3 separate regions of the Homo sapiens genome follow, and regions 1 and 3 are each linked to region 2. The links come from fine-mapping of genetic effects on gene expression. A gene starts in region 2. Each other region holds a variant in brackets. All regions are shown on one strand. Distances are from middle to middle.

Evidence for each region.
Region 1: its variant is fine-mapped to the expression of DYRK4 in whole blood (TOPMed, PIP above 0.99). The same link has a PIP of 0.9 or more in CD4 T cells and CD8 T cells.
Region 3: its variant is fine-mapped to the expression of DYRK4 in cerebellar hemisphere (GTEx, PIP 0.98).

The regions. Positions count from the first base shown.
Region 1 is chr12:4,602,580-4,606,823 of GRCh38, reverse strand. DYRK4 (dual specificity tyrosine phosphorylation regulated kinase 4) reads right to left here. Exons shown (of 15, transcript NM_001394779.1): 11 at 1,738-1,910. It also overlaps the pseudogene LOC103568124. Among named protein-coding and RNA genes, the nearest start is that of DYRK4, 42 kb to the right of the region's middle. RefSeq lists an enhancer at 1,664-2,003. The variant C/T (reference allele first, on the strand shown) is at 1,955.
Region 2 is chr12:4,560,480-4,564,723 of GRCh38, reverse strand. DYRK4 (dual specificity tyrosine phosphorylation regulated kinase 4) reads right to left here and starts at 2,516. Exons shown (of 15, transcript NM_001394779.1): 1 at 2,441-2,516. The coding sequence starts at 2,478. RefSeq lists a silencer at 2,387-2,681.
Region 3 is chr12:5,385,400-5,389,643 of GRCh38, reverse strand. No RefSeq gene overlaps it. Among named protein-coding and RNA genes, the nearest start is that of NTF3, 45 kb to the left of the region's middle. RefSeq lists an enhancer at 238-1,437. The variant G/A (reference allele first, on the strand shown) is at 1,987.

The DNA of each region.
Region 1 (4,244 bases), 42 kb before region 2:
ACAGTGTGGGTCACCTGCCCTTGCTGCTCGGTTCCCACCCATAATCCATCCATTATCCTGCTCTTCTGTTCCTCAGACCCTTTGACACTGAGGTCAAGAGGAAGCTGAGTCAGTTCTGGGGCTGTAGGAAATTTGAAACATAGGCCCCGTTCTCTTTGGTATTGGAAGCAGGAGTGGTCTGGGGATGCTTTATAAAATCATTCATTATCAACCTTAGAAGCCATCTTCTCTGCTCCCCTCATTTTATAGTCCAGAGCTGGGAAATGCCTAGTCAAAAAGACAGAGCCAGGACTAAGACCCCAGGTTTAATGACTCGCAGGCCAGTGTTCATTCCACCACAGCTATTTTTACCTAAGTTATTTTAATATTTTATTATTAGTTTCGATCATGAAATGAAATTATCTATGTTTAGTCATTCTCAAGGCTATATGTGTTTCTCTGTAACTTTGAGACAATCTGGAAAATAGAAATTTGGCAAAGATAGATAGATACAGATACATAGATAGATAGATAGATAGATAGATAGATAGCCAGCCAGCCAGCTAGCTTGGTGTTTGCACACAAAATATCTTTGTTCACTGGGAAAATCCTAAAATGTAAAATTTAAAATTTTTAAAGTTATTTTTCTATTTTGTCTAATTTATTTCCAAAACAAGATGGCTTTCAAGTGAAAGCATAATAGATATAATTAATAATCATATCATGAGTCTTGGTCAAGCCTTGCTATTAGGAGATAGTTTTCCCAGAAAACTGTCATTTCCCATAATGAATGACTAATGCCTGAACAATACACATACTTTGAAGTCAAATAATTTCCAATTCTTTGTTTTCAACATTTTAATCGGGTTGTCAGCTGACAGGCTGGTAAACATAATTTTAGATGACAGATCACCATTTGATTCTTACACAGAACTCAAAAGGAGTCACCGAATTAGACGACATTAATTAGAACAGGCTTCCTCACTGGGTTCACATCTACACCACCAAGCAATTGGAATCACATTGATCCCGAGCCCGGGCATTCTAGCAAGAAGCATTATTCACCTATGGGTATAGGCATTAATTTGGAAAAAAAAAAAAAAAAAAAAAAAAAACCCAGCTCTATTCATTTTTCTAAGAGCTGTATGCCCAATAAGATTTCACATTTTATTTTCAATAATTATCAAAATTTGCACACCAGATATATTTTAATGGTAACTTACCAGAAAGAAATTTTTACACATGAGGCTTACGGTATCAGGAAATTTTTAAAGCTATAATGATTGATAGAAGTTTCTAAACATAAACGTATATTAAATTAGAATAAAATTCCATAGAGGAAGTAGAAAAAAGAGTAGAAACAAAAGGGAAAAAAGAACAAAGTAAAATCATGGCACAACTCTTAAGAACCTGTTCACATACTATCAGATAGATTTTAATGGGTGTCATGTCCGTCTGGTTTTGCATTCTTTTGGATATTTTTGAAAGAGCGGTGTAATTTTATTTTAAAATGTCACTATTTACAATATGATGGAAATGACATCCTCTGCAACTATTTAAATTTATGATAAAACGTTAGATGTCGACTTGACAAGTACAAGGGAGTACACAATTTCAAAACTCCTTTTAGGGAATACTCAACAACAACAACAACAACAAGGTATGCAGGCCATGGTCCTGGGCGAGTCTGGTGCAGCCCCGTGTCTGAGGGCCAAGCCCACGGTCTCCGTGGGAGCCGACCGCCAGCCCTCCGCGTACCTCCATGATGCAGGCCAGCTGCTCCACCTCATTCTCCCCGGGGAACAGGGGGTAGCCCGTGTACAACTCCGCCGTGATGCAGCCCAGGCTCCACATGTCAATGGCCACGTCGTAGGGGTGGCCCAGGATCACTTCTGGGGATCGGTAGAACCGGCTTTGGATGTACGTGTATACTGCGGAGGCAAAGTAAGAGAAACCTCGTGGGACAAACTTCTTA[C/T]CCTCCAGAACGCTCTCCCCCAGGACAACTTCTCAGTTAGACTGCGCCCCCGCTGGCAGTGAAAGGGAAGTGCAGCTGGCCAGCACTTAGAACTCCCATTACACCATCACAGCATCAAATCCGCCAGCAACCTGATTATAAAGGAGGTGTGACTGTCCCTGCTTTATTGATAACGAACTCCAACGTGGGCACTGTCGTAGGAAAGTGAATCTAAGTGAGCCAAGTTTATAACAAACAAACAAAACATAAGACAAATATAAGACTAAGTTTTCAAACTGTCAGATTGATTTGGGGTAGACAGCTTCTGAGTCTTGTGACTTGGCAAGAGAGTTATCAAGTTAGAAAGGGAGCATATCAAGTTAGAAAGGGAGCATGCAAAGTCTGTATTCAATATAGCATGTGCACTTATTGTATAGAAAGAAAATTCTCAACAGGTGAGGATGAACAGACTGAAGTCGAAGAAATGGAACACGGTAGTTATTTCCGCATAACTGGGGTTTCTGGTTACCTGGGGAGGGGCAGGGATTCTGTAACCACTTTTCTGTTGTTTAAATTGGTTATTGTCAGAACATAATTCTGTGATTTAAAACAAAATAGAGATTTAATAAAAATAATGTTTATATCCTGCCTGCTTCCCAAATGTGTTTGTGGTACTTTGCAAAGTACACATGCACAGAGTATTTTAGAACATGGATTTAATGGTATTTACATTATGTTTAGTATGTGCCAGGCACGATTCCAAGTACTTTTATAGATAAGCCCTTTCAACCCTTACATTAATTCTGTGAAGCAAGTAGTATTATTGCCTCCAATTTAAAGAAGAGAAAACTGAGGCATACAGAGGTTAAAATGTCAAGGTTACTCAGCTATAAGTGACAGAGCTGGGATTTGAGAGTAGGCAGTTTAATTCTAGCATCAATATTAGATACTGCCTCACAGTTAAAATAAAGATAAAAAAGATGTCAGAAAATATGCAAAGGGGGAAATGACTGCTAGAAACCAAGGATAAAATAATTACGAATTCAGTTCCGAGCATCTTGGCAGCCAAGATAAATGAAAACTGAAAAGTTACACAGCTTTCAACATCTGAGAAGGGAAAACATACAAGTTCTTTGTGGGAAGCATTACTTTTTAGCTGGAATTTCTTATAGGATTCATACATAAAGACACAAAGGTTTTATGTCCTCAAAAATTGATCTGCCAGAGAGGCCCAGATGGAGGACACAGAGGCATGCTGTTGCCATGGCAGTGTGGTCCTGGCTGCTGCGGAGGCAGGTGCCAGGGTCTCCCTTGCCTCGATGTGAAGAGCTTAGAAAGCGGAGGAGAGGAGAACTCCCCTGGCCGTCTCTGTGACCCCAGCCGCCGCATTTTACACAGACAGGAGGGAAACAGAGGGAGAGAAGGGAAGGACGGTGTGGAGTAGAAATATTAATGGTGGGAGAGAGGAAAATGAATGAAAATAAAGAGACTGATTCAAAAGAAAGTGAAGAATACAAAGATGAATCTGAAAAGGACCTGGAGGGGTTAACTAATGAAAATGAAAAAAGTGATGCCAGCATAATAGAGATGGCTTGTGAGAAGGAAGAGAATATTAACCAAGACTTAAAAGAGAATGAAACAGTAATAGAACACAGCAAACAGCTTTCTGATCCTGACAAATCTTTGCAGGATGAGGTCTCACCAAGAAGAAATGACTTCATTTCGGTACCGAGTATTCAACCTTTGGATCCCATATCAGATTCAGATAGTGAAAACTCTTTCCAGGAGTCCAAACTAGAAAGCCAGAAAGACTTGGAGGAGGAAGAGGATGAGGAAGTAAGGTGATACATTATGGAGAAAATTGTACAAGCTAACAAGCTTCTATAGAATCAAGAACCCGTGAATGATAAAAGGGAGTGAAAATTTAAGCTCAAGGACAAATTAGTTGATCTGGAAGTTCCTCCACTAAAAGACACTAATACTTACAAAAGTTATTTTGAAAATGAAAGAAATATATTTGGGAAACTGTCACAGTGATGTATTTCCAATGATTTGGGACAAGAAAATATGCTCCTGTCACTTATTAATGGAAGCTGTGAAATAAACAAGGATAGGACAATACTGGTAGAGAGAGATGGAAAATTTGAACTTCTGAATTTACAAGACATTGAAGAGTCAGGGGTATTTGCCTCCCATTAATAATGCAAATAGTACAGAAAATGACCCTCAGCAGGTGTTACCCAGATCTTCCAACTCCTGTGTCAGTGGCATCAAGAAAGAAGATTCTGCAGCAAAGATTGATGTTGTCACT
Region 2 (4,244 bases):
TCCAGAGCATCAACTGTGTGCCAGCTACTGGGCTAAGCATGGAGGATTCAAAGATAAATAAAACAGAAGCCTTGTTTTCAAGGAGTTCGAAGACTCAAGGTTAAGGCAGATCCACAGAGGTGCCAGCCTTACTGCACTGCATAGTATTTTATATTAATATATACACATCATCTGTGTATAGAGTACTTCAATATCCAGAAAGGAAACAAGTCTTTTGAGATTTACCTGTTATGATTTTAGGATTTCTACTGCAATTGCCAGTAGCTTGATCTTTATGCCCTGGGGGCTGTCTTTGGGGCAGAAAGTATGGCAGTGCAGGGTTTGCAGGGATTCCGTTTGCATTCTGTGAACAGGTGATAATGTTTTTAATGAACTTAAGTTACATTCATTTTTTAATTGATATATAATAGATGTATATTTATATTTATATAATATATAATCAAGTCAGGGCTTCAAATTATTCTCTACTAGCTATTTTGAAATATACAATAGATTATTGTTTACTATTGTCATTCTACTGATTTATTAAACACTAGGTCTTATTTCTTCTATCTAAATGTATTTTAAGTCACACTCATTTCTGCCAGAGAATTCCTTGGACCCTCTGCATATATCCCTGAGACTCTTGAGGGTTCACTGACTCCCAGACTCTAAAGAGCTAGAAGAGGTTTTGGAGACCATGTCATCCATTTTCCCACCCTGGGGAAGAATCCTCTTTCTATGGTATTCCTGGCAATCACTCTGTCTATGCTGGAATATTTCTATGACAGAGTGCACTGTTTTTCTAGGCAACCCATTTCACACTCAACTGTTAATTTACATAGGGTTGGTACTTGATATTTCTTGGAAGAATAAACTATATTGAGCAAAATTTCCTCCACTGATCCTTGCTATCCTCTGCAGAGTACCAAGGAACAAATCTATCTCTTTTCTACTCAAGAGTTCTTGAATGTTCAAAAGTTGAGTAGAAAAAAGCTTTCTCTCCCTTGCATCTCCTCATCTCCAGGCATTCTGTGAAGTTTTTTCAAACCTCTCTTCATGTGATGGCACACCCAGGCCTGACAGAGAGAGCCTGCCTTGTGGTTGTTCCTATTTTCCAGTTCTTTGTGATCTCAAAGTAGCTACAGTTTCTAGAGTCTGGATTATGTTCTACTCATTGCTAAGTCAGGCAGCACGACCATATTCTTTGATGTGGTCATTGCATTTCTATGAATGCAGCCTCCACCAGCATTTGCTCTTTGGGGAGCCATCACAACACACTCACGATGGGCTTAGAGTCAGCTAAAACCACTAAATCCCAGCACTGGGTCCTCCACACGCTTGAGGACTATGCATTCTAGCCAAGTTGCAGGCAACAATATGTGGAGTTGGAGAGGGCAAAGTCAGGGAAGAGTGGCTGGCATATTGCTAGAGAGTCCCTTCCGATTTACCTCTGCTTTCTCCATAAGGACCAAAACAAACAAGAGAAACAACAGATTTAAGTAACAGAAACAATAAGGTAGAGTGCATGTTTGAAGAATTTCTTCGAACTCCTAGGTTTTACATACCGACCACATGTAGGTGATCAAATCGCTCAAGCAAGACAAAGGACATTTTCATTTGTTGTTTCCACGGTTTGAACTTTTCCACTAAATGGCCTCCTGCTTTTGCCGAGTCTCCACTTAAGCCTGGACAGTGAAGCTTGAATTAATATTGGTGATGCTGTCCGTTGCTTAAGACATGTCAGAGGGGTCACGGTTTTCCTAAGCTTTGAGGGGCTGCTGGACATTTCAAATGCAGCAAATGTCACAGAATAGCCTTTAAAAACCCTCAAATTGTGCATTGTTCATCTCTTTTTTAAGGAAAGATTTGCTAATATTGGGAATTTCCTGAGTGGCAGCTCTGGGTGTGTGATCTACACACACCTTCGCGCGCTTTTGTGTCAGGGGCTGGGCCCTGGTTGAGCACAGAGGTGCCCGGGCATATGGGCTGGGTGGGAACATGAGTAATGCCTGCCAGAGCCTCATCCACGCGAGGCGTGTGGTCGTGGACCCACTTACGACTACCAAGAGGACATGCAGTAAAGAAGAGAAAGAAAGGGAGGAAGAAAGTCTGGCGTCCCAGTGAGGGCTGGAAGCACAGTTCCAGGATAGGTCTGCTGAGTTCCTCAGAACCCCTCGCTCCCTGTCCTGCACTCAGCTGGAGTCGCCGATGCGACAGCATCTTAACATGGAAGTATACTGACGTCGGATTCCGGGGATGCAGCTGCTGCAAAAACTACAACTGTATTTTCTTGTCCGCGCACCACAGCCCGCCTCTCTCTGACCCACATTCCCCGGTCAGCTCTTGCATTCTGCACGCTTTTCATTCTCCCCCCACGACCCCGTCGACCAGAAGCTTCGTCGCCTGCCTCGTACTCGCGCCTGACTGCTCGTGAAGTACGAGCCTCCGCGGCCCTTACTTTGTTCCGGTGCGGATAGGCGGCGGGAGGAGCTGCATGAGGCCGGCGCTGACCGCCCGCCGCTGCGGGAGGCTGTGAGAGCCCGGCAGAGGGCAAGGGACGGCCACGCCCTCCTCCCGTCGCTATAGAAACGGCTCCCGCCCTTTTTATGACTCCAGAGCTGGAAGGGCTTTCTCAGGCTGTGGTCCCAAACCACCTTGCAGAGTAGCAGCCTGAAGAACATACTCCTCGTCCTCCTACTCGCATTCTCTTGCCCCAGTTCTTTAAAGTATAGGGCAAGAATTGAACAAAATCCCAGCATAAAGAACTTAAAGTTGGTTGCCCAGACCGGACACATGAAATTATCCCTACTCTCTCCCCTTCTTCAAGCGAAGCATGTGGTTATCAGAATTACATCACAGAAGTTCTGGCCGGGCGCGGTGGTTTTACACCTGCAATCCCAGCACTTTGGGAGGCCTAGGCAGACCACTTGAGGTCTGGAGTTCGAGACCAAACTGCTCAAAGTAGTGAGACCCCCCCGCCCCTGTCTCTATTTAGACATTTTTTTCTGTAATCCCAGCACTTTGAGAGGCCAAGGCGGGTGGATCACGAGGCCAAGAGATCAAGACCATCCTGGCCAACATGGTGAAACCCCGTCTCTACTAAAAATACAAAAATAAGCGGGGCGTGGTGGTGCGTGCCTGTAGTCCCAGCTACTTGGGAGGCTGAGGCAGGAGAATCGCTGGAACCCGGGAGGCGGAGGTTGCAGTGAGCCGAGATCGCGCCACTGCACTCCAGCCTGGCGACAGAACGAGACTGCATCTCAAAAAAAAAAAAAAAAAAGAAAAAAAGAAAAAGAAAAAGAAAAAAAGTAAGTACATAGCAAAAGTTCTGGGTAAAATCCATATATCAGCTGAACACTTTTTGAGTGCTTACTCTGCACCAGATTGTAGAAAGCATGAAAAGGGAAATTTGTAATTGAGTGGCAGTAGGTTGACCTGGAGGTGCACAGTCTGGTCCAGGCAGAAAAGACATTCAAATGAAGCTTTCTGAAAGAGCTGAGTTGAATCTGAGTCTTCAAGGACAGGCAGTAGTTGTCTACGTAAAGGAGGCAAGTCCTATTCTGAAGGCCAGAGCCATAGAAAAGCTTGGTACCATTGTGCCAGCACCCAGTTTAGTGGGGCAGGGATCAAAGTTGCACGTGGGCAGAGACAAGGTTGAAGCAGCAGGAAAGGGGGAGTCAGACACCAAGTAGGCTATGAACTCGACCAGGGTAAGGTGTGTATGTGCAGACTGCAGAGGGGTGTTCATGCTGACTTTATTTTATAAAACCCTCTGTGGCAATAACAATGGAAGTAGGCCCGAGTAGGTTAAGAATCAAGGCAAGGATGCCTGTTAGAAATAGTGAGTGATGATGTTTCAGAGTAAGGGAGAGCACATGGAAGAGTAGTTTTGAGAAATTTAGGAAATGGAGTAAGACTTGGTGACTGGATGTGAAAGTCGAGAGAAGACTCAATCCCAGGATGACACCTTTGGCACCTGCAGTGATGGTGGTGCCATTCATTTACCAACAGAAAACACAGGAGAGATGTCAGGGGTAGGAGGAGACGTTGAATTTAACAACTGATCTGCTACATCAAATTGTCAGTGGACCATCCACAGGTTCTGTTGTCAAGAGCATGGTATAGGGTACAGACCCTGACTTGGCAGTCACTGTCACATAAGTGACCCCTGGAGTTTGCATAGAACATGAAACTGGTAAGACAAGTAGGTAAAGGTGACACAACAGATTAGAAAGCTGCAAAATAATGAAGAGTAGGCATGG
Region 3 (4,244 bases), 820 kb before region 2:
GTTCCTCCTTTTTACTGAAGCAACAGAAGTGGAGGAATTAGACAAAGTCATTGGGATTTTAAGTGGATGTTTCAGGCCTAAGAAGCCTGAAGGGATGGGGGTTCATCACTGGGAAGATGGCACATCCTAGGCAAGAAAAGGGAGGTGAGACACGAAAGGGAGGAGGCTTTAAAGGGAGAGAGCCACAGCAAGTTGGAGAGAAGAGAAAAGAGGAATTGTGCATGGGATGCCTCACTTCTTTGGGAGATACCTAGAGGAGAAGGTAGCAAGGCCAGGGGCTAATAGATGCTTAGAAAATAACTGAAAGATGATCAGTTTAATAGCTTTCTGCAAACTATCCTGGGTGTACAGTCATTGGTCCAGAAAGGTGAAGGTTGGAAAATGATTTCTGCTTCCCATCCCTTCTCCTAAAGCCAATGAGAGTGACCAGACCCTTCCGGTAGGGAGCTGCTTCATTGAGACCCACAGCACATTCAGTTGGAGGAAGGCAAGGGAATATTTACAGAAATAACAAAATAAAGGAATATCCCTGACATGACCCTCATCCCTAATGGGTCATCTAATAGGTATGAACCACACCCTCTTTGTGGCTTTTGAGGTGGCAGAAGTATCTCAGATGGTGACTCAACTGGAAAAAAAGTAAGTTAAATCCTCAGAATTTGTATCATACTCTACGGAATGGAAAACAAGGATTCTCCATGCAGGTTATATTCCAGATGAGAAAACTGAGATAAGAGAACTAGAGGAGTGTATTGACCACATCTTGGTGAAATAAATAGGATATTACAGGCTCAGTAAATGACCAAGAATCCTGTAACTGTGCTCTTCCCCCATATCTGACTGTCTGTGCTGCTAGGAGGAGGATTGGGACCTGCCTGTATGGTCTCTGGGGCTGGAGATTGTCAGGCAGGGGTGCAGCCCTCTGTCCACACAGCCAAGGGAAGTCCCTGAGTGGGATGTGAAGTCCCACTCAGTGCAGCACGTGATATTAATGACCCCAACGTGGAATTCACATCACTTACCTTTTCTCCTGCATGTTGGAATGAAACTGAAAGGGGTTTTGCTCTCAAAAAAAGCCTCAGGAGAGTCTTCAAAAGGCAGTGATAATATAATCAAGGCACATGGCTTCACTGAAAAACAGTTGGGTTGCAATAGAGCAAGTATGAAATGTGCTGTGAATAGAAAGCCCCTATTGTTGGACACTCAAACAAGGTACACTTGACCCCTTTCAATAAGATTCTTAATATTTTTAAAGGAGCAAAAATATCTTTCCTGCAGCAAAAAACGTTCACAATCCTTTTCTTACCCATCAAAGTTCCATTTAAACTTAACCTTTTCTTTTCTGTTTTACGTATTTTTCAAGAAAGGAATATATTGACATAAGCCTGAGTTTTCTTGCCTTCTTGTTTTCTTCACTTTTCATTGCCAATTCTGTCCAAAGTAATGGAGGCTGGAACGTGGATGTGGAGTGTGTAGCCGCCATGGTGGTGAGAGGATAGATTATATGGAACACTCAAACATCTAATACGTATGTATTTATTCATGCACTCAACAACTAAAAATAGTGTTTACTCACTTCAAATATGTTTACTGAGAACCTATCATCTGAAGGACCCGCAGGTGAACAAGACAGGTTTAATTCACAAGATAAATTATGTATCCTGATTACTACAATAGGAAGGAAAAAGTTAGTGCCTTAAGATATACATATACAATGACAGAGGATTTGAAAGCATGGAGAGAGAACTTTCAGCTCAAGAGCTCATGAAAGGCTTTGTAGAGTCTTGAGATGGCATTTTTTTGAGCCTAAAGAATAGGTAGGATTCAGGCACGAGGAAGTGGGAAGTAGTAGGGATTATTGGCAAATGAAACTGCATGAACGACTTAGCAAATGGGAATTATAGGTCAAATACTAAAAGAAGTAAATCACATATGTGCTAGTCTGTTCTTGCAGTGCTATAAAGAAATACCTGAATAAAGACAAGA[G/A]GTTTATTTGCTCATGGTTCTTCAGGCTGTACAGTAAGCATAGTGGCTTCTAGGGAGGCCTCAGGAAGCTTTCAATCATGGCGGAAGGTGAAGGGAAAGCAGGCAAGTCTTACATGGTCAAAGCAGACGTGGTGGCAGGTGCCACACACTTGCAAAAAACCAGATCTCATGAGAGCTCACTATCATGATGACAGCACCAAGAGGCATGGTGTTAAACCATTAGAGACCACCTCCATGATCCAATCATCTCCTACCAGACCTCACCTCCAAACACTGGGGATTACAACTGAACATGAGAATTTGGTGAAGACACAGATCCAAACCATATCAGTATGGGATGAATGAAGTTGAGAAAAAGCATATGATGAGAAGCAGTGGAAATTATATTTGGAAAGCTATGTTGGTGTCAGATAGCAGGCTGTATTTGGTGTATTACTGTGGCTGCATGGGGGTTGAATCTGATTACAGCAGTACTTCACCCACACTCACAGACAGACACACATAAAATGGTGGAAGTGAGGGAGAAAAAACAGGTATAAGGCTATTTCACTGGCCCGGAATATGACAAATACCTGAGCTGCAAAAATCAAAGTTGGGACGGAGAGGAGAGTTTTCTATTATAGATATTAAATTGGGTAATCAATTACAGATAAGTTTATAATTGATCATTTATCAAGCCAAGGGAGAAGGCACAGTTCAAGATGACTTGGAAGTTTCCATGTTGTGAAATAAAAAGTAAGGTGGTCTATTGAGAAACAGAAGAAAAGTAGTTGATTTTGTAGGGAAGATCAGAAATTCAGTTTGGAAACCTTGCAGGTGCTGGTCCATTAGGATACCTGGGTGAGGATGCACAGTTGCAGCATTTTCTCTGCAAATGAAAGATTACAGATTCAAATTTGGGAGTCCTCAAATAAAGGTTATAGCTGGAGCTGTGAAGCTGGCTGAGATTGTCAAGAACAAGTTTGGAGAGAAAAGAGGGAAGATGGAGTAGAGAAAAGAAGAATGATTAGGTCAAATCCCTGGAGAAGATGTGTTCTCAAAGGCAGAAAAAAGAAAAAAAAGTTAAAAAGAAGAAGAACAGAAGGAGAAGAAGGAGGAAAAGGAGGAGGATGAAGGGGAGGAGGGACAGAGAGGAGTAATTTGAGAAGCCAGAGGACAAAAAGAACGCTACAATGCATTAGAAGCTAAATCACATATGATTAGGTTTTCTGTAGAAAATGTAAAAACAAAATAACAGTGGTTTAAAATTTTTGAGCTTTTTTTTTTTTTAACATAGGAAAAATCTGAGGTAAAGAATCGACGGGCTGGCAAGTCTGCCCCACGATGTCATTAAGGATCCTGGCTCGTTCTGTGTTTCTGTTCCATGATCTTTCATGTAGAGCCTCATGATCCAAGATGACTGCTGTACCTCCAACCATCATGCCCACATTACCATAAATGGAAGAAGGAGAAAGGGCAAAATAACTTGTGTTACCATTTTGCAGTGCCTTTAGGGATTCTCCTATAAGTCCCATCAAACAACTCCTGCATCTGAATTATTGATTGCATTTCACAGCAGTGAGGCTGGGAAATATAGTATTTGCATTGCTGCCTAGAAGAAAATCAGAGTCTATTAGTAAGGAAAAGGGGCAGTTGATATTGGATAGGCAATCGGTAGCAGTCTCCACCAATGAGCCAAAGGTGGAGGGGGTTTTAGATAGGAAAGAAAAGTCAACAGCCATGTTCGGAAGTGTGGGCACAAACTCAGCTGCTTCAGCGTCACCTGGGAACTTATTAGAAACGTAAAATCTTGGGCTCCAACCTTGGCCTACTGCATGAGAAATGCTGCGGGTGGGAGCTAGCAGGAGATGCCTTAAAAAACCCTCCAGGGTATTTGGATTATTGCAAAAATGAGAACCATTAATCAATCAGTATAAATGCTGCCATTTGTCCCCAAGGGTTTGTTTTTACAATCATTTGTTGAACAATTATCATGTGTCAGCCACAGTGTTAGATGCCTCTATCCATATTATACCATTAAGAGACAGTTTATTCATCTTTTATTTTTATTTTTTATTTCTTGAGGCAGGGTCTCACTCTCACTCAGGCTGGAGTGCAGTGGTACAACCATGGCTCACTGCAACCTGGACCTCCTGGGCTCAAGCAATGCTCCCACCTCAGCCTCCCCAGTAGCTGGGATTACAGGTGCACACCACCATGCCTGGCTAATTTTTGTATTTTTTGTAGAGATCGGGTTTCACCATGTTGCCCAGGCTGGT